7 linked regions of the Homo sapiens genome follow. The gene in region 1 interacts genetically with each later gene. Each region holds a gene or a part of one and is shown in the gene's direction. Other genes may lie near its edges.

What was found.
Region 2: changes in CFLAR (region 1) and ODR4 together harm fitness less than expected from each alone (positive genetic interaction), as found in Homo sapiens cells (one large-scale study listed by BioGRID).
Region 3: changes in CFLAR (region 1) and UXS1 together harm fitness less than expected from each alone (positive genetic interaction), as found in Homo sapiens cells (one large-scale study listed by BioGRID).
Region 4: changes in CFLAR (region 1) and UFM1 together harm fitness less than expected from each alone (positive genetic interaction), as found in Homo sapiens cells (one large-scale study listed by BioGRID).
Region 5: changes in CFLAR (region 1) and CHST15 together harm fitness less than expected from each alone (positive genetic interaction), as found in Homo sapiens cells (one large-scale study listed by BioGRID).
Region 6: changes in CFLAR (region 1) and TNFRSF10A together harm fitness less than expected from each alone (positive genetic interaction), as found in Homo sapiens cells (one large-scale study listed by BioGRID).
Region 7: changes in CFLAR (region 1) and B3GAT3 together harm fitness less than expected from each alone (positive genetic interaction), as found in Homo sapiens cells (one large-scale study listed by BioGRID).

Annotation. Positions count from the first base shown.
Region 1 is NC_000002.12:201,126,164-201,129,663, forward strand, and holds part of CFLAR (CASP8 and FADD-like apoptosis regulator), read left to right. Parts: exon of another isoform or gene 1-3,357; intron 3,358-3,500. UniProt on the Homo sapiens protein: Apoptosis regulator protein which may function as a crucial link between cell survival and cell death pathways in mammalian cells. Acts as an inhibitor of TNFRSF6 mediated apoptosis.
Region 2 is NC_000001.11:186,392,838-186,396,337, forward strand, and holds part of ODR4 (protein odr-4 homolog), read left to right. Parts: intron 1-1,109; coding exon 1,110-1,178; intron 1,179-3,500. UniProt on the Homo sapiens protein: May play a role in the trafficking of a subset of G-protein coupled receptors.
Region 3 is NC_000002.12:106,096,802-106,100,301, reverse strand, and holds part of UXS1 (UDP-glucuronic acid decarboxylase 1), read left to right. Parts: intron 1-1,528; coding exon 1,529-1,586; intron 1,587-3,480; coding exon 3,481-3,500. UniProt on the Homo sapiens protein: Catalyzes the NAD-dependent decarboxylation of UDP-glucuronic acid to UDP-xylose. Necessary for the biosynthesis of the core tetrasaccharide in glycosaminoglycan biosynthesis.
Region 4 is NC_000013.11:38,359,851-38,364,119, forward strand, and holds the end of UFM1 (ubiquitin-fold modifier 1), read left to right. Parts: intron 1-190; coding exon of another isoform or gene 191-216; exon of another isoform or gene 217-860; coding exon 861-928; 3' UTR 929-3,769; downstream 3,770-4,269. UniProt on the Homo sapiens protein: Ubiquitin-like modifier which can be covalently attached via an isopeptide bond to lysine residues of substrate proteins as a monomer or a lysine-linked polymer.
Region 5 is NC_000010.11:124,024,099-124,027,598, reverse strand, and holds part of CHST15 (carbohydrate sulfotransferase 15), read left to right. Parts: intron 1-3,500. UniProt on the Homo sapiens protein: Sulfotransferase that transfers sulfate from 3'-phosphoadenosine 5'-phosphosulfate (PAPS) to the C-6 hydroxyl group of the GalNAc 4-sulfate residue of chondroitin sulfate A and forms chondroitin sulfate E containing GlcA-GalNAc(4,6-SO(4)) repeating units.
Region 6 is NC_000008.11:23,204,603-23,208,102, reverse strand, and holds part of TNFRSF10A (tumor necrosis factor receptor superfamily member 10A), read left to right. Parts: intron 1-686; exon of another isoform or gene 687-1,195; intron 1,196-3,500. UniProt on the Homo sapiens protein: Receptor for the cytotoxic ligand TNFSF10/TRAIL. The adapter molecule FADD recruits caspase-8 to the activated receptor.
Region 7 is NC_000011.10:62,614,796-62,618,986, reverse strand, and holds the end of B3GAT3 (galactosylgalactosylxylosylprotein 3-beta-glucuronosyltransferase 3), read left to right. Parts: intron 1-1,639; coding exon 1,640-2,000; intron 2,001-2,190; coding exon 2,191-2,481; intron 2,482-2,746; coding exon of another isoform or gene 2,747-2,801; exon of another isoform or gene 2,802-3,187; coding exon 3,188-3,286; 3' UTR 3,287-3,691; downstream 3,692-4,191. Other genes in the region: ROM1 (rod outer segment membrane protein 1), read right to left, coding at 4,148-4,191. UniProt on the Homo sapiens protein: Glycosaminoglycans biosynthesis. Involved in forming the linkage tetrasaccharide present in heparan sulfate and chondroitin sulfate.

The DNA of each region.
Region 1 (3,500 bases):
TTTCTTTTATACTTTGGTTTAGAAAGGGGAGGGGGGGGTCTAGTTAAAACAATTTTACAGAAGTAAAGTAGGCAAAAAAGTTAAAAGGATAAATGGTTACAGGAAAGTAAACAGTTCCAGGTGCAGGGGCTTTAAGACTATTACAAGGTGATAGACGCGGGGCTTTGGGCGTTATCAATCTGACGAATTCCTGAGAACTGCGGATATTGCTGGCCACAGTATCTTATCAGTTAATTGCATTCTTGGATGTGCTGGGAGTCAGCTTGCACAAGTTAAGTCCTTGCGGAAGGGCTGCCAGTGAAACAGCCAAGATGGAGTCTGTCTGGCTCTCTTAGCTAAGGGAGAGTCAATTCAGGTGAAAACAAGGCTAAGTGATTAAAGGAAAGGGAGAGTCTAAAAACAGCGTTAGTAAAAACAAGGTTGGGCATTACATGATCACTGGGTCTCCACTGTCAGAGGGTCTTTGAGCTCAGTTCTAGTGGCAGCCTCCTGATCCTCACTTCCCTGGCTGAGGCAAGGTTGTTGCAGCAGCCCCAGGAGTCTTTGTTAGAATCCCACCCCAGAGCTCCTTCCTCCAGTCCTCTCAGCAGTTTTGTTAGTTCCAGTATTAAGTGTAATTTCTACAAAAAATGCCTGGAATATTTCTGTTTCCAGAACCGGATGCTCCTGTTAGCTAGTGTGTGAAAGATAACTCTGACTTGCCTAAGCTTTGTTGATGTTTTGAATAATAATTGGCGATAGTCTCTTGACTTCTGCAAGAGAAATGAAACAGAAATTGGTCTCAAGTTTTAGTTGCTCTTGTGAAGGTCAGGGACAGTTTGTACCAGGGTGTGGGTGTGGAAAAGAAGGGGAGATATAGTCATTAAATTAGAATATGCCTGTGAGGGGAGTTAAGGGGAATTCCTTTAAAATTCTAGAAAACACACACAGGTGCCAATTTTGTCTGGCTAGGGAAAAGTAAACTGCTGAAAACACTTGGGGGGAGAAATGAAGCTAATGGTATCTTGATCAGTCAGGAGGATTGGGTATTTGAAAGCAGGGAAGAAAAATAATTGGACTTGGATATTCCTTTGCCCCTTCATCTGAGTAAGGTGAAAGCAAGTGACTCTTCAGAAGAGGCGAATGGGACACTGAGTCCAGCAGCTCAGGCAGGGTGGAGTTGGTAACTGATGGGCACAAGTCTTTTACTGGGCTCTAAAGAACTCATTCATCTGGGTGTGGTGGCTTACACCTGTAATCTCAGCATTTCGGAAGGCTGAGGTAGGAGAATCACTTGAGCCCAGGAGTTTGAGACCAGCCTGAGAAACACAGTGGGACCCTTTCCCTACAAAAAACTGAAGACCTTATGAGCTTCCCTAGTCTAAGAGTAATTTTTATGTTAATTTCTTGGCTTGGGCTTAAACCCCAACAAAGTGGTGATTATTCGGACCCCAGCCCTACCTCTCCCTAGTATGCTCTCCTTTCTCAAGTACTCACCACCTCTAGCCACAGTGAACTGCCTCCAGCATACACACACGCTGCTATTTTGTTGCATCTGAGTGGGCTGGCTCCACACGGGATCTGTAGTTTCCTTTTGATATTTTCTTTCAATGTGCCAGATGCTACCACTGAGTAATCTAGATTTTGCTGCCAAACTCTACCCCCGTTAGCACAGAGGGAAGACAGTATGCCAGTGCTCTTGCTGAGTGTGCGTGACTGGCAGAAAGCAGTCATGGGTGTGATGGTTGGAAGAAACAAACTGAGCAGATAATGTTTTTTAAAATGATTATCTCATTTTGTTAACTCTTGGTGGCATTGTTATATTGTTGATACTTATGAATTACAAAAGTTAGATGACTGTAAAAAAATAGAGAATTAAGCATTTCATTTCTAGTAGTTCTGTTTGGTTCTTTTTCAAATATGTCAGTGAATTTGTATAATATCTCATTTCTTAGTCTTGTGTTTAATGATTTTATTTTTGTGTTTTTATAATTCCTTCTACTGCATATATTTTATACTTTAATTTATAATAACAACTGTTGACAAAATTGTGACTATTCATTAATACAGTAGAAAAGAACTTGGCCTCCTTTTCATGGAAGCTGATGATGAGATTAAAGCACTGTTGGCCTGCGAGTGGAGTATAGATTTGGGCTGTCCAGAACACATAAAATTTGTATTTATCTTTCTGATAAAAAAAAGTAAAATAGTCTGAGTGCCAATTTTTCCACTTTCATTGAGCACATTTAATTTTAGTAAATTTAACTTAGCAAATTTAATTTCTCCAGTTATTTACAAATAATCATATTTAAGTGAAGTTGGGATGAATGGGCAAGCCCATTTCAAATTTCTAACCTAATTTTTCCTCTTGTTTTCATATAAAATTTTTCTATTTATGTGTTTTTATTTTAAGATAGCTCAAATCTTTTGTGGACTGATACTGTATGTATATAAATAAATGGATTCAGTGCTTCTTTCACTAAATACAGCTAGATAAATATATAAATATACTTGAACACAAATACAAAGCAACCATTGGCAATTTAGAGTTGGGTTGTGTTTCCACTTATTTTTTGTTAATAAATTTGATTTTAACCTGAAATATTGTCTTGTAGGAACAGATAAAGAACACAAGAGGTGATTTAACATAAGTTTTAGCTGTGAAACTTAGAGTAGATAGGTTAGCAACTTAAATTTTGAAAGAAAATAGGATGAGTTTCAATGGAAGAAATTAAGAACACACCCATTGCATGAGCTCCTTACCCCTCCTACCCAGCCCCCTCCCAGGAGTGAGATCTTTCCCCAGATCCTCTGTAACTTCCAGATGTTCCACTGAGAACATCAGAAGCACTAATGGCAATTGCTGCCATGTAGCAGTGCATTGAGAGTCAGGGCCTCTGGCACCTCCATGGGGCTCAGGGTCTGAAGACGTGATCCAAACCTGACAACTTGGTGGCAGGTTCTGTGAGCATTCATGATGTTGTGAAAAGGGCTTGGGGTCTAGGAGGATGGCAGCAGAGGTTTCTGCCCTCAGGTGTGAGTGAGGGGCTTTTGAAGTAGGAGAGCAACTAGAAAAAAGGAGTGGCACAGGGACAGAAACTTCTTTTCTCCATTGTTTGTTCAAGGCCACGTGGGTGGAGTCATTGAGGTGGAGGTTTAACTCTGTGACATAAGTTTCCCTGATTTAGTCAGGCTGTCTGTCGTTGGGCTTTTCCCACTTCCTTCTACTACGTACTTCTTCCCTATTCCTCCTACTGAGGCCATTAAACCCTTAGTTGTAATTTTCCCTGAACATGCTTTACATTCTGATGAATTCTGAAAAAGAATGTGGGGTTTCCTTGCAGATGAGTTCATCTGTTGTTTCATTTCCTTTACAATGTAGGTTTTCTTCTCTGTCTTTTTGGATTAGTCTGTTTTTGGTTCTGTCTACCAAGGATCCCTTTCTTTAGACTTCTATAGATCCCTTTCTATAGAACTTAATCTACTTAAGTCAGGGAGACCACCCAGAAGGAAAGAGCCCA
Region 2 (3,500 bases), on another chromosome or scaffold:
ACTAAAAATAACAAAAATTAGCCGGGTGTGGTGGCAGGTGCCTGTAAGCACAAGCTACTCGGGGTGCTGAGGCAGAAGAATGGCTTGAACCTGGGAGGTGGAGGTTGCATTGAGCCGAGATCGTGCCACTGCACTCCAGCCTTTGGCTACAGAGTAAGACTCCATTTCAAAATAAAAGAAAAGGAAAAGAAGAAAACTAACAGAGGAACAGAAAACCAAATACCGTATGTTCTGACTTATAAGTGGGAGCCAAATGATGAAAACACATGGACACATAGAGGGGAAAAACACACACTAAAAGGAGGGAGAAGGAGAGGATCAGGAAAAATAAATAATGGGTACTAGGTTTAATACCTGGGTGATGAAATAATCCGTATATCAAACCCCCATGACTGAAGTTTATCTGTGTAACAAATCTGCACATGTACTCATGAACTTAAAAGTTAAAAAATAAGTCCAGGAAAAAAAAGAAAATGATGTAATTGGAATCCTGAAACTTTACAGGAGTGTCATCTGAATTTCATCTGATTTCCAAATTGTAAACTGCTGACCTGCAACCAAAGGCCACATGTTGTTCTGCCCTGATGACAGTTCAAAAGCTATGGCCATTTTATAAAAGAGGTTTATAGAGGCTTCTAAAATAGCTTTGACCTGAAGGAAGCGGAACTTTTGTGATCTCTCACTTTTTAAAGCAGGGATCAGCAAACTTTATGTGAAGAGAAAAATACTACATATTTAGATTTCACAGGCTGTATTTTTATCTCTACTGTGTAGCATGAAAGCAGCTACAGGAGATACATAAGTGAATGATCCTGGTTGCATACCGGTAAAACTTTATTTACAAAGATGAGTGGCAATGTGGGTATTTGCCCACAGGCAGTGGTTTGCCAGTTGTTGCTTTAGAGGAATGAAAGTATGGAATTAATTGTTTTAAAGAGTGTACATTGATACAGAATACATAAAGTAATATCTATATAAAAAGCTAAATTAAAATAATTAAAAGACTTGTTTTTTTCTAAGTTACTTAGTATATGTACAATAGTTTATAAGTTGTCTTTTATGTTTTACAGGCTTCACAGTTTGGCTTTTTAACTTTTGTGTTTTTTCAGAAAAAATCTTCTAGAGGAAATACTCAAGCAACTAGTCATTCTTTTGATGTCAGAGTGCTAACGCAGTTGGTAAATATTTTAAAATAACACTTAAAATATTTATTAGCATAACCATAATGAAACTGTTTCTGTTTTTATTTTTCTCATTAGAGAATAAAAGGATTTTAGAGCTGTAAGAGACTGTATGAAATGGCTGGTTATAGGAAGGTTATTCCCAAGAAACATCATTTTAATAAAACCTGTTTGGGTTTTTTGCCTCAAGGATATTAAAATTTTAACATCAATAGATAGCAGTTTAAAAAAATATGTACACATACATGCATACATATACATGTATGTATGTGTACATATTTTGGGTTGTAGCTTTTATAGTTAAAGTTGCAATTTTAACAACTTAAAAGATGTGTACACAGAGGTGCAAAGAGTTGTCATATGCTTATTTTGAAGTAGATTAATTAGATTTATACCCCCTGATTTGATAAAAATCACAAAGTATTAATTAGCAAGTTTTATATTTATGTATGGTTGCTTTAATTTACACGTCTTTTCGAAAATTTAAAAGTTGGATATCTTAAAGAATAAAAAGTTAAAGCCACTAATTATTCCTAAAAATACATACCTTTGATTTTAATCCTACTTGAAATTATCCTAAAGAACAGACAAGGGTATAAAATAGCAAACGCGTGTTTGTAGGAAACTTTATTTCAATATTATACTGGATTTTGAAACAGAAATACTCTCAGGACTTGTGTTTTTTTGAACTGAATAGAATAGAATTAAAAGCAATTTGGCATTTGAGGATGTTTTAGTTTCTTCTTTTTCTGTGTGTAGCAATAGCGCATTAGTAAATTGTCTTTGGGCCTATGCCACTCAATGTGAGTTCTCAATTTCATTTTTCAATACCTTAGAGGTATTTTAGTCTCTGATTTTCTACTTTGTCTTGATTTTAGAAGTGTCCTTTGTTTTGAGGCTGGCTATTCCACTACTTATGTGCTTTTCACTAGTTAGGCTTACTTCATGGTTTATTAAACAATTTGGTTAAGATTATTTTATTAGTAGTATAAAATTGTAGTTGGGAGATGTATAGAGTGTGGGAATATAGAGAGATGAGTGGAAGATAATCTCATGAGATAATTTATTGTAGTAGTAATATTATTGTTATTTTTGAGACGGAGTCTCGCTCTGTCTCCCAGGCTGGAGTGCAGTGGTGCGATCTCGGCTCACTGCAAGCTCTGCCTCCTGGGTTCACGCCATTCTCCTGCCTCAGCCTCCTGAGTAGCTGGGACTACAGGCGCCTGCCACCACACCTGGCTAATTTTTTGTATTTTTAGTAGAGACGGGTTTCACTGTGTTAGCCAGGGTGGTCTCAATCTCCTGACCATATGATCCGCCTGCCTCGGCCTCCCAAAGTGCTGGGATTACAGGCGTGAGCCACCGCGCCTGGCCAGGTGTAGTAATAATATTATATAGTATAATATATTTTTGGTAGTCACTCCACCGATCACCTAACTGGAAATTTTGAAGTGACTAATATACAGTAAGTAGTCAGTAAGTATTTATTGCCACTTTTCTCCCAGTTAAGTCTTATTGATTCCTTATTTGTAGTATTAAGCTTTTCTTTTATTTTCCATACAGTCCTGCTGTCATTAGCCTTACAACAGTATTATTTTACCTAAACTAGCACAAGTAGCCCTTAACTGGTCTCTCTTCATCTATACATTCTTGTCCAAAGTGATTGTTTCTCTAAATCCCTTCTACCTTTGTTAGTATATCTCTTGAAATACTTTCCATTTATCTACTCTATCCTGTTTATACACTCAGATGATCATTTCTGAATCATAGTTTATGTTCAGTTATTAATTTTTTTCAAGAAGTATTTATTGAGTTTGTACAACAGCCGGACACTGATTATGGTACTCCTTGCTCAAAATTTCTTAAGTGTTCTGTACTGACTAGTTAGAGAAGTCCAACTCAGGGTTCTTCATAGCCTCAGCATACCTTTTTGTTCTTATTTTCTACCTCTTATTTTCTAGATGTATGCTTGCCATACCTTTAAAGCTCTGTATTTCCTGAACTATGTATCATGTCTTTGCTCTTTTCTCTGTCACCCAAACTGTCAAAATCCTATCTGTACATTAAGATCTAGCCCAAATGCCACTACTTGTGTAAGATTTCATTTGGTTCCCATAGAAATGGGGATCTTCTCTTTTTCAAATGCCATGTCAGCATCATAGAAGTTCCCTCACCTATAGGCTGTTTGGCAGCCAGGTTATTCCTAAGTCCAAATAACCAAGAGGAGTTTACATTTGTAGACCCCAACTGGTCTACATTTCCACCTAAAAGGAATGAGTCAGACCTTACATTCTTTAAAACTTTTCCTGGCTGAGCATG
Region 3 (3,500 bases), about 95 Mb from region 1:
ATGGTAGGACCTCTTACCCTTTCTGTCACTGAGTGATTTTCTGAGCAGTTTTGTTCCATCTCATTTAAAATGCAAGGTTTCCAATGTGGACTGTCCAGCATTCAAGATGTTCTGCTTCTGTTGATGGCAGTGGACACAAGAACCTCTTAGCTCACAGAGACCTCCCCCTTAACCCTACCTTGGGGTCATTTCAGGTGCTTCTCCCAAATTACCTCTCCTGGTTCCTACACAACACTCTAAAGTTCAGGGAACTCTAAAATGTTGGCCATGTGACCTATTTCTTGCAAACCATGTCACCTTTGCTTATGCATGTCTTTGTAACCAGCCATCTCAAATACATTGCAGACCATGCATTTTTCCCTGAGGTGAAAGGGAATTCTCATCACGTAGGAAAGAATTGCCCTGGAGTGCTGACTCCATTCTGGGACTGTTGCTGATTCATGGGTACAGTGTGCCACTTTTGAAAAAAATTCACTTAAAACAGACCAGAACGTGCCTCACACTGTAAGCCTCATTTTGCTTGCAGCATTTGCCTGTGTACACTGGAGAGGCCCGAGGCGCCCCTGCTCTGCGTTTTTGTTGCAGGTTCTTTAGCAAGGGTGTTGTCAGTGACTTCCCTGGGCAGCCAGGCTCTTCTCTGTAGATACCATGTTCCTCCTTCCCTCTTTGGGGAGGGCCTTTGCACAGGGACAATTCCTAAAATTGGAATCGTGTGTCTGCCAGGAGAAAGGCAGAATCACTTTCTTGCAAATTTCCGTCACTCCACTTCGCTAGTCATCCCCTCTGTGCTCCATTGAGGCCCAGGGTCTCTCCCTCCACATTTACCATCTAGCTTCAGGCTAACCGAGGACCTGGGCATGAAGAGGCTTTAGGGTATAGAATTATCAGACTTTATGGTGGTCTCTTATGATGAGGGCAGTGGTGGCAGAGTAAGAGTAACAGGTGCTCTGATGTGTGATGGGAGGGAGAAAAAGAGCAAATGGTTTTCCTTAAAGCCCCCACACAAGTATTCTCTCTTCATGAAATGCATGGAGTTTGTCCTCTGGCTTGCCGGGGACACTCGCCTGTGAGCCTACTCATTTCTGCCTTAGCTTTTGGGTGTGAGATTACAAGTCCTTCATCACTGACATGGTTAACACAGCTCACCCAGACGGGAATAGATAGTGTTAGGAGAGCTAATTTTGTAAACCCAAGCTTTTATAAAAGTGACATTGAAGTTATGTTAGATATGGAAATTGTCTGATACTCAGTGAGTGTGTGCCTTCATCAGAAACTCTTGACCTATCCAAAGCCCAGCCTTGTACACAGCAGCCTAGAGGCTGAAGGTATAGATGGTGCAGTTTAGCACTGCCAGGTGAGTAACTGTCATCTTGGAAGCGGAGTACCCTCTGGCACACGGAGCTCTGCTGAAGCAGCGCAGGGAGGTCAGACTCGGCCAGTAGACGTCTCTGCAGACACGCCTGTGGTCTGGGTGGTGGATTGCTGCTGTTGTCATGACGCTTATAACTGGAAACCGTTTCTTTCTTAGGGGAACCCAGAAGAACACACAATCCTAGAATTTGCTCAGTTAATTAAAAACCTTGTTGGTAAGTAGGATAAGTCATTTCCTGAGTAAAATCGACTGTGCCTGCCCTATCTGTTAATAACACCTTGACTAGAAAGTGGGTAATTAATACAAGCTAATTGAATTGGATCAAAGCAGAACTTTTTATCAGGAATACTTAAGTGTTTTCTAATTTTTAAGGAATAGAAAGATAAAGGAGGGCAGGATTGGTTTCTCCTCAGTTTTCGTTGCAGGTTTGCATGAAGTGGGAGGGAGGAGGAGATTTGCTCCCAGTGTTTGAGGCACGATTGTATTAGATCATCCTACATGGGTGACAACTATTGGATTTCCGAACTGGTCATGTCAAGCATAGAATTTCAGACAGCAAGAGACAGCAACCACCAGCTGCGTGCTTCAGGCAGGTTTGAAATTCTGTTTGCAATTCTGGTTATCCTGGCTGCCACCCACTGGGGGCAGTGTAGCATTGGGAGCACCCCATCAAGGTGGACTCTTAGGCCATGAGAAGGTCAGGTCTTCCAGACCAGCCCTGGATTGCAGACATAGAGTGGATGAGCCCTTGGCCTCATCTTCAGACTTCCTGGAGCTCTGAGGAGTCAGACTCTTGGAGGGTGTCTGTTGTCTGGGGTTGATCCTGAAATTTGAGTGAAGTCACAACCAGACTAGACTGGCAGGTAGGCCAAGGAGGAGTATGCCACAGTGTGTCCTGAGGTGACCATTCAGACCCCGCTTGGCTGGGTTAATTCCTCCAGTGTGCCCTTCCTGGCATCAGGCTGCCATTCATCGGCATTGGTCTAATCGACCCGGATGGCTGGAATCCTCCCGTTGCTCGTGGCAGTAGAAGCAGCGGTCTTCCTCAGACATAGCCTGCATCATCTGTGGCTCCCACAGCTGCTCCGATGCACTTCCCAGCTTTTCCATCCTGAATCTGTGTGTTCCTCCTGCGTGAGGAAGGGGCAGGCTCAGATCACAGCTCTGTGCCATCCACTCCTTCACACCCTCACTGCACAGAGTGAGGCCCGTGGGCCAACGCAGCAGCAGCATCATCAGATGTGTGTTAGAAATTCAGACTCTCATGCCCTAGCCCAGGCCCCCAGATCAGGATCTGCCTGTTGACAGGCTCTTCAGGTGATCCGTGCGTGCTGACGCTTGAGAAACACTATTTGAAACCTAAGGCTGGGGGGAGGGGCGTGCAGCTTCCCTGCTGTGCTTCTGTATATAGCTTTGTGACAGACCATCCTGAACCACCTGTGGTGGTGATTCGCTGCAGAGTCTGCAATGTGGCCTCCATGACACGGAGGCAGGGAAAGCCTCCACAGGCTTTCTTCTGCAGGTCTGGCCCACAGTCACTGGTGGGGCTGTGTACTGCTGGCCAGTGGGGCCTGGGCCCAGCAAGGATGTGGAACAGGCCAGCCTTTGCCGTCCTCCGAGAGGTCCCTCCAGCTGGGTGGCTGCACATCTTGGGTCTCAGGGCTGTCTAGGCTCCGAGCACCCAGGTATGGCCCACTTGGGGCATCCACCTCAGGGATGGCCCCACACCACGTTTGTGGTCTCACACCGGGGTCATGCTCGGTGGGCACGTCTGCACTTGTTACCTGGTGTGGGTGGTCTGCCTTGGAGCAACCCTCTTGTAGTGGGCGGTAACTCAGGCCTGTTGAGACAGAATAACCTGCCCCCCACCGAGCTCTTGCTGGGCGCCTGCACACAGTCAGCTTGGCCACAGCAGTTGCAGGAGCACTCCCTGGACTTCCACGCAGAACAGTCCCTCGGGAGCTCCGGGGCTTCTCAGAGAACTGCATTTCCACCGCCTGCACCCTATTCACACCACATATGGGGTTTGCCTTTGATGTGGATGGTAAGGCTGTGCTTACCCATGCTTTGTGATTCTCTCCTACCTTTTTTTTCTTTAAACATCTCAGGTAGCGGAAGTGAAATTCAG
Region 4 (4,269 bases), on another chromosome or scaffold:
CTTTATAAAAAGAAGTCTAAAACTTTTTTAAAATTAGTTTTATATTTTTAAAATGTAATCTCTTAGGCTTATAATCTAAAGTTTTAAAATTAGGCATGCTTTAATGTAACCTCATTCTAGAGCAGTAGTTATTTTTAAATTATATTCTAAAGTATTTCTTTATTGTAACAAAATTATGTTGTTTTCACAGGCCTTGCAGTTGAAATTCAGCCATAAAGAAAATGAAGTGATTTAAAATTGCAAATTTTTGTTACTTCAGTAGTTGTTAATATATAATTTTATTAAAAAGGTTTATTGAAAATCGTGAGGCACTTTATTGTATGGATGCCTTTAAACTTAGTAGACAAAGGTTTCTTTTTTTCTTAATCGAGAAACTTTCAATATTTTACAGTAGTTTGAATTACTGCTAACTCTAACATACTGCTTGTTTTATTATCTTTAAAAATTGAATGTGCATATCCTTGATATGAAGAAAATCTCATCAGGCAATTGACCCCAAATATGTCAGGGTATCTAAATTTTTGTCACTTGTAGTAATTTACATTTTTTTTCCTGTCCTTAGATATATTATTGTGTATTGAAGGAAGTATTCATGATTAAATTATTCACAGTTACTTGATGAAAGTATTCGTCAGAGTTTTCATGGCTGGTGTTATTTTAAATTTTAAGCGTATGTTGGATTGTGAAGATAGGAGAATAGGAACAAGACTTAAAAAGCTTGGAATTGGGGTCTCATGATGCTTGAGCTTTTGTACCCATTTTACTGTTTACTAAATCATTTATTATATTTAATAATTGTCAGAATATTAAGATAACTTGATTTTTAGATATCTAACTTTATGTTTTGTTTGTTTGTATAGGAAATGTTTTTCTAAAACATGGTTCAGAACTGCGGATTATTCCTAGAGATCGTGTTGGAAGTTGTTAATATCTGCTACTTGGAACATACGATTGCCTTTCAGAATAAATATTGGTATTTTTTGTTGTTGTAAAATTGAAATCAGGCATTTAACATACTATGAAAACACCAGGAGTCAATGATTAATGAAAGGTGACTCATCTGTCCCTTTTTGTTGTCCATACTCTTCCTATGAAGAGGGAATGCGTATGAATTAAGGCTACTACTGTCACAGAAGATCATAGTCTTTGATGCTACCTCACAACACAAACAGGTAGTTCGTTGGGGGCAAATGAATTAGCCAACTGTTAACTGGAAGCTTTTGATAATTTTTTTTTTTAGAACAATTTGGAACATTAAAATTTACTGAATCGTATATATTCATCTGAGATAAAAATATAAAAAGAATTATGGACCCTGGATGGCAATTTGCTTGATAGCATCTGATTTGCAGACTCATAATTTGATTTTTAATTAAATATATAGGTTGTGATGAAGTGAATAGACATATCAGTGAACAGTTAACTATATTAAATTTTTATCATTTACTTTTTTTAAGATTCAGACCTCAGTTATATAAATTTCAGTTTAATATCAACCAAAAAATTAAAATTTTAATCTAACCCTTATGTGTATAAATTGGTGTCCCATACCAGCTTTTAATGGTGGACCTATAGAATCCAGTACTTTTAATGGTGGGAATTTACAGTAGAAGCATCCTTTGCTGAGTTATACATTCCTTTATCAATCTCTTTTGATACAACATTTAAAACAAGTAGCTTCAAGAAACCACTGGTGTTTTGAGGATAGTATTTCTAAATAGCATTCAGGAACAGAGTATTATTGCACAGATCTGAAGATCAAAAAAAAGCTCAAGGAAATACAGATCGGAAGTGCTGATGAGTTATATTTATTGAAAACCCAACTTTTAAGGAAGTGCTAAGATCAGTCACCCATGTGAATAAGAAGCCAGGAAAGGAAAGATGGGGAAGCCCAGATCACCAGGCTTCTATTAAGGAGGAAAGCAACAGAGGAAACAGTGAAGGGGAACAGAAGGGGGTAGCAAAGTGTTACAGAAAAGCGGACTGGATAGACAAAACTGCAGAAGGTGTATGTTGGGGAGAACTGAAAGGGAAAACAAAATACTTGACATAGTCTTAAGTAGAAGAAGGCAGTTAGAGAAAACAAAGTATCTACTGGCCTTGTCAACATACAGACTTCAAAATACCCCTTATGAGAATCCAAAGAATGATGTGTGTAAGGGAAGATTTTATTTGCCCTTCCGGAAGAAATCAGTATCTATGCAAATCTTGAAAGACGAAATCAAAGCCCATTAATGATTCAGAATCAGTGCTTGACCTCCTGTATTCTGAATGGTGAACTCTGGAAGCAGGGATTGTGTCTGGCTCTTTTTAGAGCTGGAAATGTAGTGGCTTTCATTAAATACTTGCTGTAAAGTCTTTCTAAGACCAATTATTATCTTAGCATGTTTCAGTATCTTCTCTATCATAGGCCCTAAGTTCATTGGGGGAAAAAAAATAAGAAGATTCAACAGAATCAGCATTTGAAGTGTACCATTGGTAGTTGTTTATGAAATTACCAGATATTCATAAATGTGACAAATGAACAGCAGGATTATGAATTATCAAAGGAAAAAGTATTTGCTGAGGTGAAAAAATCTGATGTTTGAGGAAGTTTTTATTTTTATTTATTTGTTTTGTTTTTTTTTTTTTGAGGCAGACTCTCTGTCGCCAGGCTTCTCCTGCCTCAGCCTCACGAGTAGCTGGGACTACAGGCATGCACCACCACGCCCAGCTAATTTTTGTATTTTTAGCAGAGACAGGGAGGAAGTTTTTATTTTTATAAACAAAATCTGATGTTCAGAGGCCCCGTTTCTTACAATAAATGTTGAGTCTTAGTTAAGCAGGAATTTATGAACACCCATTTCCTGACTTTTTGCTTTAATTTAGATTTTTCTCCATCCTGTTTCTAGCACAAAAATTTGCCTGCTGTGTTACAAAAATAAATTTATGTTGTCCTGTGCCATAAAGTGATATATTTAATATTTTTATTCTTTGGTTTTGAACATTGTAAGTTCCTAAAAACATTTTATTAAACAAGTAGACATTTTGTTATTAAAAAAATGTGATCTGTAATTTCTTTGTGCAGAATGATTTGAAGTATTGTATTCAGTTTACATGCGTTATTGGTTTATAATTAATATCTAATGAAAATACATGTTGTTATATTGTAAACCATATTGTCTGTTCTTATTATTAGAGCTCTTAATCAGCACACCTTTTGAGTCAGTATATAATACATGTAGTAAAGAAAAAAAGGGCAAAGATGATTAATGACCATAAGTCAGAGAAATTAGTTTATAGTCATCTGCCACAGACATAGTAGTGATGTTTCGTCCAACAACAGACCGCATATATGACCGTGGTCCCATATTACTATATTTTTACTGTGCTTTATCTATGTTTGGATACACAAGTACTTACCATCATTTTACAGTTGTTTACAGTATTAGGTACAGTAACATGCTCTACAGGTTTGTAGCCTAGGAGCAATAGGCCATACCAAATAGCCTAAGTTTGTAGTAGGTGACATCAACTAGGTTTGTACAAGTACATTCTGATGTTCACATAGTGACAAAATTGCCTAAGGAAGCATTTCTCAGAATTTGTTCCTGTGATTCAGTGATACATAACAGTACTTGCAAATGCCTGTCCATTTTACAGACGGAAAAAAAAAAAAAAAAAGTTGAGAAGAAAATGGGGTTATTGTAACTGGCTAGGTTGGTAGGTTCCAAACCTGGGTGATAACAGAGTCGCCTAGGAAATTAAAAATACAGATTTTTGGAAACCACTCCTTGAATTCTGATTTATTACATCTGTAATAATATATAAAGATCCTCTGTAAACAGGAGTTCTGGTGATTTCTGCCATGCAGGTGGTTTGAGAATTAATGAGAAGGCCACCTTTTCACTTTGTAGAAGAACAGAATGAGGTCTAAGGGGTCAAAGTAAGTAGAATATGTTCTGGAATCTTGGACAGTGCACTTTCCAATGCTTGGTAAGTAGCCTGAGGTGAAGGTGCTAGCTAACAGTCTCACTCACTGCACAACCTTTGAAGTTTTTCTCCGGGAGGTGGGGGGCAGCCCCCGCCCGGCCAGCCGCCCCGTCTGGGAGGTGGGGGGCAGCCCCCGCCCGGCCGCTGCCCCGTCTGGGAGGTGGGGGGCGCCTCTGCCCGGCCGCCCAGTCTGGGAAGTGAGGAGCCCCTCTGCCCGGCCGCCACCCCGTCTGGGAGGTGTACCCAACAGCTCATTGAGAACGGGCCATGATGACGATGGCGGTATTGTCGAATAGA
Region 5 (3,500 bases), on another chromosome or scaffold:
TTGCAGGTACTAAACCCGGAAAGCAATCACACAGAGCCCTGGCGGGAGGAGCAGCAGCAGCTCCTGCTTTAATAGTGATCAACTCACCAACCTCTGCTCGCTGGCTCAGAACAGCACGCTGTAAGTGTCCCTGAATGAATCCAGCAGTGGTCTTGGCTGTAAGTGTCCCTGAATGAATCCAGCAGTGGTCTTGGCTGTAATCATCCAGATTTTACATAGTAGGGCCTTGCCACTGCTGGCCTCTCCTTTGTCCCTTGGGGAGAGACATGGTCACTTTCAGAGGCACTGGATTGATGGAGCCCTATGCCCCCTAACATACATTTCCCATCCCACCGCTCCTCCAGGGGTCCCAGGACCCCTGCACTGCACAGGAAAGGGGCTGAGCAGTACCCCATGAGCACGGGCCCAGTGTGAGGGGCCGCGCCGACAGCCTTCTAAAATAACCGCAGCACAGAAGGCCTGGAATGCATTTGGACTTATATTTGGAATTGTCGTTGGAAACAGTCCTGGCCAAATGTAATACCCATCTGTTCGGGATGGTTTGAGAGTAAGAAAATGAGGTGGCTCAGCTGGAGGGGGCTGGGCAGCCCTGAAACTCAGGGCTGGGAGGGTATGATGTCCCCTGGCCCCCACGCTATCCTGGAGCCCTCCTTCCCTCCAGCCTAGGCTGCTCCTGCCTTCTAGGACCATCCCCTCGTGTTAGCCTGCCCTGACTGGAGGTATTTCCCCTTGCCTGCAACCAGGCTTTCTTCCCGAACCTTCTGCCCGCTGGTCAGTCCTTCAGGAGTTCGGGACTGGGCTCCTTCCTGCTGAGTTTTTGCATCTCCAGGGAGAGCAGCCAGGTTTGGTGCCCAGCACTGAAAGCAAGCATCCGCTGAGGCCGTGAGCTGCCTGTCGCCTGGCTCCACCCTCCCACATTCCTCATGCCGTGCCCCTGTTAATGCATCCTGGGGTTGCATCCGTGCCCCTGCAGTTCTGTGATGATTGATCGTGAGCTGTGTGTTTTCCATTACATTGGTCTCCTTCCCCCACTTCCTCATGGGATAGTGGATTTTGAAGACTAAAAGGTAGACATTTCAGTTTGTTTCTGTACGTTTCATCTTGTTCCACAGTGTGCCTGTCTGGCCTTTTGACGTCCAGTGGATACTTGTTCTTGATATGTTTGCTGTTCTCAGCATTTTCTGAGTGGCTTTAACCTATCCGAGTGGCTTTCCCCCACCCAAGATTATTAACTCACTCTTTTCCCCTGGAGAGTAGTCAAGGGGGAAATGATAGCTTTGTTACTTGAAGACAATCTTAGGAAGCATTCGCTTAATTCTTGGGGAGAACCCAAAGAGTGCTCCCCCGTCTCAGTGCTCCCCTGTCTGAGTGCTCCCCTGAAGGGAAGTGCTCCTGTCCGCATTTGCCTTCCTTCATGCTTCCTTCTGGGAAATGTGGCCACATGACCCCAGTCCTCCCCTACCCTCAGGGCCACTGTTCCAGGGTCTCAGGGTGGCAGAGAAGTATTGGCAAAAATAACTCCTTGGAGTAATTGGTCTTCCTTAGAATTGGGGTTTAAAATCTGTCTGGTTTCCTAGGGCAGTCATAATAAATCACCACAAACTTGGCTTCTTAAAACAACAGAAATGTAGTCTCTTATGATTCTGGAGGCCAGAAGTCCTAAATCAAGATGTCTGCAGGGTTGGTTCCCTCTGGTGGCCCTAAGGGATAAAAGCCGTCCCCTGCTCCCAGCTCTTGGTGGCCTCCAGCAGTCCTTGGCGTTCCTTGGCTCATAGACGCCGCACTCCAGGCTCTGTCTCCGTCTTTCTGTGGTGCTGTCTGTCCTCTCCTCTTTTTATAAGGACACCTGCCATTGGATTTGGGACCACCGTAAATCCAGGAGGATCTCGTCTTAAGATCCTACACTTAATGACATCTGCAAAGACCCTATTTCCAAGAAAGGTCACATTCACAGGGGCTGGGCTTCAGACTTGGACATAATTCTTTGGTGTCCACTATCCATCCAACTACGGAATCCAGATGGTGGCCATGGCTTGTGGTGAATCTAGTCCCTGTTCAGATGTCTGTGACACAGCAGGATGCCAGGGACCCAGCATAGTTTCTCGCAGTGGGGTTCGAGGGGCTCCCAAAGCCCACTGCCAGTTCTCTGAGCAGATCCAAAGTACCCAGAGGTGACTGAGAGGCCAAAGGAGTCTCTTTTCATCCAGCCGAGGAAGGAGCGTGGCCTGGCTCTCAAAGGCTGTACATGTGACTCACAGGAAGTGAGGTAGTGAGTTCACTTTAACCCACCTCAAACAGATGAAAATCAGCCGTTTCACCTGCTAGGGGTGGGCTTGCCTGGTTGGAACAGTAGGTATGTCCCAGTTTTTCCTAGGGATTACTTCTTGATCTCTGAAGAATTGTATGGAATCAGCAGATTCCTCATGAAGTGACTTTGTATTTAAAATCAAGACAAGCTTAGGTGCTTTTGTTTTATTTATGAGCCAAATATCTGCAAGAAATGTTATTACCACAAAGAAAATTCTCAGTATGGAAACCTTCAGCCAGTGTTTGGGTTTGTGTGAGGTAATTTATGTGATGGAATTCCAGTTCCACCAAACAATTTGGGTAGTTCTGTGGGCATCTTTGGTAAAAACTGGGCTTCGAATACTTATTTAACGTGGGATTTTATGACAGTTTCAGAAGCATCTGTTACTTTTCATTGACGTAGTTTCTTGGGCTGAGCCATATTATTGACAGGACTCATAGGAAATGTGTGAGCCAGGAAGGGTACCCCTCAGACCAATTGCCACCTGGCACCCCTCAGTGCACACAGCCAAACCTTGCTTGAAGGTTCACGCGTGTCTGATTTTGGCACTTATTGACCAGCCATTTAGGTCATAGTAACCATGAGCGACCCTATGGCGACAGATGCCGTGTTTCAGTTTTGATGTGTCTTCTAATTCTGAAGAAGGAAAATAGCACAGGTGATGTTGGGGACACCAGTAATAAGCTGATGTGGTGTTGTCTTGGGGAATATTCTCAGGCGAGTGTGGATCTGGGGAAATCTACTCAGTGGCCACCGAGCCCCTTTGCTGACTGTCTCTTTGGACAGTTTGGCTGGCCAGGCTGTGGTAGATGGAACACTCCTGTTCCGGTGGGTGTTTTGATTCTAGGAACTCTGTGGGTAGATCTCAAACTGCTCAAGACTTCCAAGAGGTGTCCTCTGTGGACATTGGCCGTGGATGAATTCTAGAGGGCTGTGTCAGAGGCACCCGATGTGCCAAGGTGGGCTACGGAGGTGGATAGCTTCTGGGCCTGTCCCTAAGAAATGCTGCTCCTCATATCATGACCTCAATTAGAGGGGAGGGCAGTGGAGAAGGCGCATTTGCAACAGACCCTGCTATAAGGGAGCACAGTTTTTGCAGGGTAGTATGTGGCTGAAGGTCTGGGAGCGTTTGGAAGTATGGATGGCGGCTGGGCGTGGTGGCTCACGCCCGTAATCCCAGCACTTTGGGAGG
Region 6 (3,500 bases), on another chromosome or scaffold:
CTTTTGGTCAAAGCCATTCAACAAGTCTCTAGGAAGTTCCACACTTTCCCACATTTTCCTATCTTCGTCTGAGCCCTCCAAACTGTTCCAACCTCTGCCTGTTATGCAGTTCCAAAGTTGCTTCCATATTTTCAGGTATCTTTTCAGCAGCTCCCCACTCTACTGGTACCAATTTACTGTATTAGTTTTTTTTTTTTTTTTTCGTGCTGCTGATGAAGACATTCCCAAGACTGGGCAATTTACAAAGAAAGAGGTTTAATTGAACTTACAGTTCTACGTGGCTGGGGAAGTCTTACAATAATGATGGAAGGCAAGGAGGAGCAAGTCATGTCTTACATGGATGGCAGCAAGCAAAGAGAGCTTGTGCAGGAAAACTCCCCCTTATAATAACCATCAGATCTTATGAGACTTACTCATTATCATGAGAACTGCAAGGGAAAGACCTGCCCCACATGATTCAATTACCTCCCATTGGATCCCTCCCACAACTTACGGGAATTCAAGATGAGATTTGTGTGGGGACACAGCCAAATCATATCAGTAATATTGTCCTTATACAATGAATTGGAAAGTGCTCCTTCCTCTGCTGTCTTTAAAAAGGGTTTCTGAATAATTGGTATTAATTCTTCTTGAAATGGTTGGTATCATTCAGTGGTAAAGGCATCTGGGCCTCAACTTTGTTTTTCTGGTGAAAACATATACATGTATTTAGAATTAGCCAGCTGGATTCAGTTTAGATGATCCCAATTTTGTTGGCAACATCCAAGACATGGTAATCAGGAGCCAGTCGAACATATGCCTTCTTCTCTCCATCAGGCCTAATCAGGGTGTTGAACCTTGGCCACATAAACATCATAGAGCTTCTTCACAACCTGTTTGATCTGGTGCTTGTTGGTTTTAACATCTACAATGAACACAAGTGTGTTGTTGTCGTCTTCTATCTTCTTCATGGCATACTCAGTGGTCAGTGGAAGCTTGATGATAGCATAGTGGTCAAGCTTGTTTCTCCTGGGGGTGCTCTCCAGAGTCTCAGTATCTTGGGCCACCGGAAGGTGGGTGATGTATGGATATTCTTTTTTTCATGGCAGTGGACACCTTTCTACACTGCCTTCTTGGCCTTCAAAACCTTTGCATCGCTTCAGCTTTAGGAGGGGCAGGAGCTTCCTTCTTTGCTTTCAGTGCCATCTTGTGAAAACGACTTTTCTTTAGGAGTAGTTTTGATAACTAAGTCAAAATCTTTACTTGCTATATGTCTATTCACATTGTCTCTTTCATCTTGATTCAGTTTCAGTAGTTTGTGTCTTTCTAGGAATTTGCCCCTTTCATCCAAGGTACCTAATTTTTTGTTGTACAGGTTTCATAGTATTCTTTTATAATTTTTTTATTTCTATATAATCTGTAGTAATGTGCTCTCTCTCATTTCTGATTCTAATACAGTCATGCCTCAGTTAATGATGGGAACTCATTCTGACAAGTGCATCATTGTGCAAACATCATAGAGTGTACCTCCACAAACCTAGATGATATAGCCTACTGCATCCCTAGGCTATGTGATATAGCCTATTGCTCTTAGATTACAAACCTGTACTAGTAGACAATTGTAACACAATGATAAGTATTTGAGTTCCTAAACATGTGAACATAGAAAAGGCCCAATAAAAATATGGTATAAAAGGTTAAAAAAGATGATGTAGTTGTCTAGGGCACTTACCATGAATGGAGCTTGCAGGACTGGATCTTGTCTGGGTGAGTCAGTGAGTGGTGAGTGAATGTGAAGGCCTGGGACATTCCTGTACACTACTATGGACTTTATAAACACTGTACATTTAGGCTACACCAAATCTGTAAATTTTTTTTTCCTTCCTTCAATATTAACTTCGTGTAACTATTTTACTTTATAAACTTTTTAATTTTTAAAACTTTTTCACTCGTTTTAACACTTAGCTTAAAAAACAAAAACTGTACAGCTGTACAAAAAATGTTCTTTCTTTATATTCGTATTCTATAAACATTTTTGTATTTTTAACTTAAACTTTTTTTTACTTAAAAATTTTTTTGTTAAAAACTAAGATAGAAACACAGACATTGGCCGGGCGCAGTGGCTCACACCTGTAATCCCAGCACTTTGGGAGGCCAAGGCAGGCGGATCACGAGGTCAGGAGATCGAGACCATCCTGGCTAACACAGTGAAACCCTGTCTCTACTAAAAATACAAAAAATTAGCTGGGCATGGTGGCAGGCACCTGTAGTCCCAGCTACTCGGGAGGCTGAGGCTGAGGCAGGATAATCGCTTGAACCTGAGAGGCAGAGGTTGTAGTGAGCTGAGATTGCGCCACTGCACTCCAGCCTGGGTGACGGAGTGTGACTCCTTCTCAAAAAAAAAAAAAAAAAGAAACACAGACATTAACCTAGGTCTACACAAGGACAGGTTCATCAACATCACTGTCTTTCACCTCCACATCTTGTCGCGTTGGAGGATCTTCAGGGGCAGACACACATGGAGCTGTCAACTCCTATGTCCTCTGATAACAATGCCTTCTTCTGGAAAACTGCATGAGGCTGTTTTATAGTTACCTTTTTTATTTGTAAGTAGGAGTACACTCTAAAATAACATTACAATGTATAGTATCAAAAATACATAAATCAGTAAGTCATTTATTATCATTATCAAATATTATATATAGAACTTCATTATATGTGCTATACTTTTAACTGGCAGTGAAGTAGGTTTGTTTACATCAGCATTACCACAAACACCTGAGTAACGCATTGACTTATGACATTACTAAGCGATAGGAATTTTCCTCCTCCATTATAATATTATGGGACCACCGTCACATATGTGGTTCATTGTTGACCGAAACGTCATCATGCAGTGCGTGACTATAATTTGAGTCTTATTTTTTCCCTGTGCTAATTTTTTAACACAATTAGTTGTGCCAATATATCGATCTATTTAAAGAACTAGATTTTGAGTTCATTAATTTACTCTGTTGTTTTTCTGTTCTCCGTCTCATTAATTTCTGCTCTAATCTGTATTATTTTCTTCCTTCTGCTTGCTTTATCTATAGTTTGCTCTTCTTTTTCGAGTGTCTTAGAGTGGATTATTAGGTTATAGATTGAGATATTTCTTCTTCCTTAATAGACATTTAGGAAGGATATTTCTTCTTCCTTAATAGACAATTTCTCTGTAAACTTCAGCTACGTTAGCTGTATCCCATAGGTTTTGGTATGTTGTGTCTTCATTTTCATTCGTCTTATTTTCTGATTTCTCTTTTGATTTCTTTTTAGACCAGTTGGTTATTTAGGAGTGTGCTATTTAATTTTTATATAGCTGTGATGTTCCCCAGTTTCTTCCTGCTATTGATTTCTAATTTTATTCCATTGTGGTAGGAGAGTGTATTTTGTATTATCTCTATCCTTTTAAGTGTATTGAGGTTTATCTTATGGCCAAGCATATGGTTTATTTTGGAGAATGTTCTATGTGCACTTTAAAAGAA
Region 7 (4,191 bases), on another chromosome or scaffold:
TCCCGAGATGGAGTCTCACTCTGTCGCCCAGGCTGGAGTGCAATGGCACGATCTCGGCTCACTGCAACCTCCACCTCCCGGATTGAAGCAATTCTCCTGCCTCAGCCCCCCGAGTAGCTGGGGTTACAAGCATGCGCCACCACACCCGGCTAATTTTTTGTATCTTTAGTAGAGATGGGGTTTCACCATGTTGGCCAGGCTGGTCTGGAACTCCTGACTTCGTGTTCCACCTGCTTCGGCCTCTCAAAGTGCTGGGATTACAGGTGTGAGCCACCATGCCTGGCCAGTAATTTTTTGTATTTTACTTTTGTATTTTTTTTTTTTTTGAGATGGAGTCTCGCTCTGTCATCTAGGCTGGGTGCAATGGCGTGATCTTGGCTCACTGCAAGCTCTGCCTCCCGGGTTCACGCCATTCTCCTGCCTCAGCCTCCCAAGTAGCTGGGACTACAGGTGCCCGCCACCACACCCAGCTAATTTTTTATATTTTTAGTAGAGATGGGGTTTCACCGTGTTAGCCAGGATGGTCTCGATCTCCTGACCTCATGATCCACCTGCCTCAGCTTCCCAAAGTGCTGGGATTACAGGTGTGAGCCACCATCCCCAGCTCTTATTTAATCTTTAAAACAACATTGTTATAAAGTACTGTTATTCCCATTTTACAGTTGAGGAAACTGAGGCTTAGGGAGATTGAGCCATTTTCCCAAATTGTCTCACATAATAAGTTACAAAACTGGATTTCAAACCCAGATCTACCTGATCCCAAAGCCTGTGCCCTTAATTTGTTTTTTTTTTTTTTTTTTTTTTTTTTTGAGACAGAGTTTCGCTCTTGTCGCTCAGGCTGGAGTGCAGTGGCACAATCTCGGCTCACTGCAACCTTCGCCTCCCGGGTTCAAGCGATTCTTCTGCCTCAGCCTCCCGAGTAGCTAGGATTACAGGTGACTGCCACCATGCCTGGGTAATTTTTTGTATTTTTAATAGAGACGGGGCTTCGCCATGTTGGGCAGGCTGGTCTCGAACTCCTAACCTCAGGTGATCCGCCCACCTCGGCCTCCTAAAGTGCTGGGATTATAGGCGTGAGCCAACATGCCCGGCCTTTTTTTTTTTTTTTTGAGATGGAGTTTTGCTGTTATCACTGAGGCTGGAGTGAAATGGTGCGATCTCAGCTCACTCCAACCTCCTCCTTCCAGGTTCAAGCGATTCTCCTGCCTCAGCCTCCCAAGTAGCTGAGATTACAGGCATGTGCCACTACACCCAGCAAATTTTTGTATTTTTTTAGTAGAGATGGGGTTTCACCATATTGGCCAGGCTGGTCTGGAACTCCAGACCTCAGGTAATTCACCTGCCTCAGCCTCCCAAAGTGTTATTATAGGTGTGAGCCACCATGCCCGGCCCTGTGCCCTTAATTTATAGTCTCCCACAGCCTGAGCTCTGGAGTTGAGGTGGGTGATGGACATGGACCAGAAGAACAGGGCAGGTGAGTGTTAGCATGAAGTTGACAGGCAAGAAAGAGGGAGTTTAGGCATTGGTTGGGAAGGGCCACAGGAGACGCAGGCAGTGGCCCAGGAGAAGCTGTCTGCCCTGGCTGGAGCAGGCAAATGGTGCCTGCCCCTTTTCCTTGTGCTGCATCTCTCCCCTGCAGGCTGGTACAGAAGGCAGAGCTGGTACGACTGTCCCAGACACTGAGCCTGGTGCCCCGGCTGCATTGGCTGCTGGTGGAGGATGCTGAGGGTCCCACCCCGCTGGTCTCAGGGCTGCTGGCTGCCTCTGGCCTCCTCTTCACACACCTGGTGGTCCTCACGCCCAAAGCCCAGCGGCTTCGGGAGGGCGAGCCTGGCTGGGTTCATCCCCGTGGTGTCGAGCAGCGGAACAAGGCCCTGGACTGGCTCCGGGGCAGAGGGGGTGCTGTGGGTGGGGAGAAGGACCCACCACCACCAGGGACCCAAGGAGTCGTCTACTTTGCTGACGATGACAACACCTACAGCCGGGAGCTGTTTGAGGAGGTGAGCACCAGGATGGGGATGGGCAAGAGACCAGGTGCGGCCAGCTTCATTCGTTACCTTGGTTAGCAGTGTTGCCGTTGGCTGCTGGGTGAGGGGCTGGAAGCAGTGGGGCAGAGTGAGCCAGGTGGCTCTTTCTGCTGCTCCCTTCCCCGGACCACCCCTCTGTTTCTTCTCTCCCGACCTCCGTTAGATGCGCTGGACCCGTGGTGTCTCAGTGTGGCCTGTGGGGCTGGTGGGCGGCCTGCGATTCGAGGGCCCTCAGGTACAGGACGGCCGGGTAGTGGGCTTCCACACAGCATGGGAGCCCAGCAGGCCCTTCCCTGTGGATATGGCTGGATTTGCCGTGGCCCTGCCCTTGCTGTTAGATAAGCCCAATGCCCAATTTGATTCCACCGCTCCCCGGGGCCACCTGGAGAGCAGTCTTCTGAGCCACCTTGTGGATCCCAAGGACCTGGAGCCACGGGCTGCCAACTGCACTCGGGTAAGGGAATGGAGATGGGCATAGAAACCTGGCTCTTGGATGGACAGGTGATGGGGGAGGTACAGTGAGACCCTGGGAATGGGTGGTTTAACCAGGAGGGACTCTCCAGATCTCTGATCAGCCTTGCTGACTCTACTGAAGGGGAAGCTGGGAACTAGCGGGGGAAAGTGGTCTCCTGCCACTCTGCCCCGAGTTCTGGGAACCCATGTGGCACAGAGAGGATGAAGGAATAAGGCCCTGTTTGTTGTTTTTTTTTTTTTTTCAGACAGAGTCTCGCTGTGTCACCCAGGCTGGAGTGCAGTAGCGCAATCTTGGCTTAGCGCAAGCTCCGCCTCCCGGGTTCACACCATTCTCCTGCCTCAGCCTCCCAAGTAGCTGGGACTACAGGCACCCGCTACCACGCCCGGCTAATTTTTTTGTGTTTTTAGTAGTGACGGGGTTTCACGGTGTTAGCCAGGATGGTCTCAATCTCCTGACCTCGTGATCCGCCTTCCTCGGCCTCCCAAAGTGCTGGGGTTACAGGCGTGAGCCACGCGCCCGGCCAAGGCCCGGTTTTAGAGGCACTAAGTCTTCCTCCACCCTGCCCTTTACACTTTGAAGCCTATACTGTATATGTCGATAGGGTTAGAGAATCCATTCCAGGCTCGGGGACCCAGAGGCCTGGCTGCAGCTGGGCCTGGCTCTCACTGCATCCCTCCTGGCACAGGTACTGGTGTGGCATACTCGGACAGAGAAGCCCAAGATGAAGCAGGAGGAGCAGCTGCAGCGGCAGGGCCGGGGCTCAGACCCAGCAATTGAGGTGTGATGGCGGCCCCACCCCAACTACCACCTCTTTTCAGGCACAGACCTTGTGGGACTGGGCCCCAGGCCTGCCCAGGATGTGGTTTTCCAAGTCCTGACCCTTGGAGCCAGAAGTGGCCCCTCTGCCCCTCCAGGCCCAGGGCATGGTCCTGCTGCTTCACCCCTCCCCTAGCCTGCCGTGTGGCACTGCCCACAGGCTGGGGACAAGCAGCCCTTGTGTTGAGTCAGGTTGGCCCTGTCTAGGGTGGAACAGAAGGACAGATGGACCCAGGAGGGAGGGCAGCTGAGTAACTGGGTAACTTATTGGGGCTGGGCATGCACTGGGGGGCTGGAGGAGCTGGGCTGGACCCTTCCCACCTGAGCATGCTGACCCCCTTCCTACCTCCAGAATAAAGAATCTCAACCTGGAGGGGCCTCTTGTTTTCCTTTGCTTCTTACATTGGGTTCTTGCTTTCTGATCCTTACAGATGTGGGCTCCTGTTGCTGCACAGGTCGAGCCAGGGTCCAAACTTTGGAGTCCTAGCTGCTCCATCAGACAGAAATCAGTTCTCCCAGGCCCCCATCCCCTTGACAAGAAAAAGCAATTGCTTCCATCCAAAAACTTTATTGAGTCTATATCAGAATCAGCCTCCAGGCCTTCTCATGTCACTTTCCCATCACTCTGTTCTTTGCTGTTCCCTGGTGGTTCTGACTACAAGGGCTAGGCCCTAGGACATCTGGTTTTCTTTCTTACCCCAGTCCAGCTCGCTGACTATCCTTAGCCCCTCTAATCCTACGATCCCCCCAACCTGGAGCCTTGGTAAGGAGTTGTGAGGTTTTCAGACTTGTCCATCCCTCCCTCTTCCTCACCCCAAGCTCCAGGCCTCTAGGCCTCAGATAGATCCTCCTTGGGAGGTGCTTCTCCTGGTG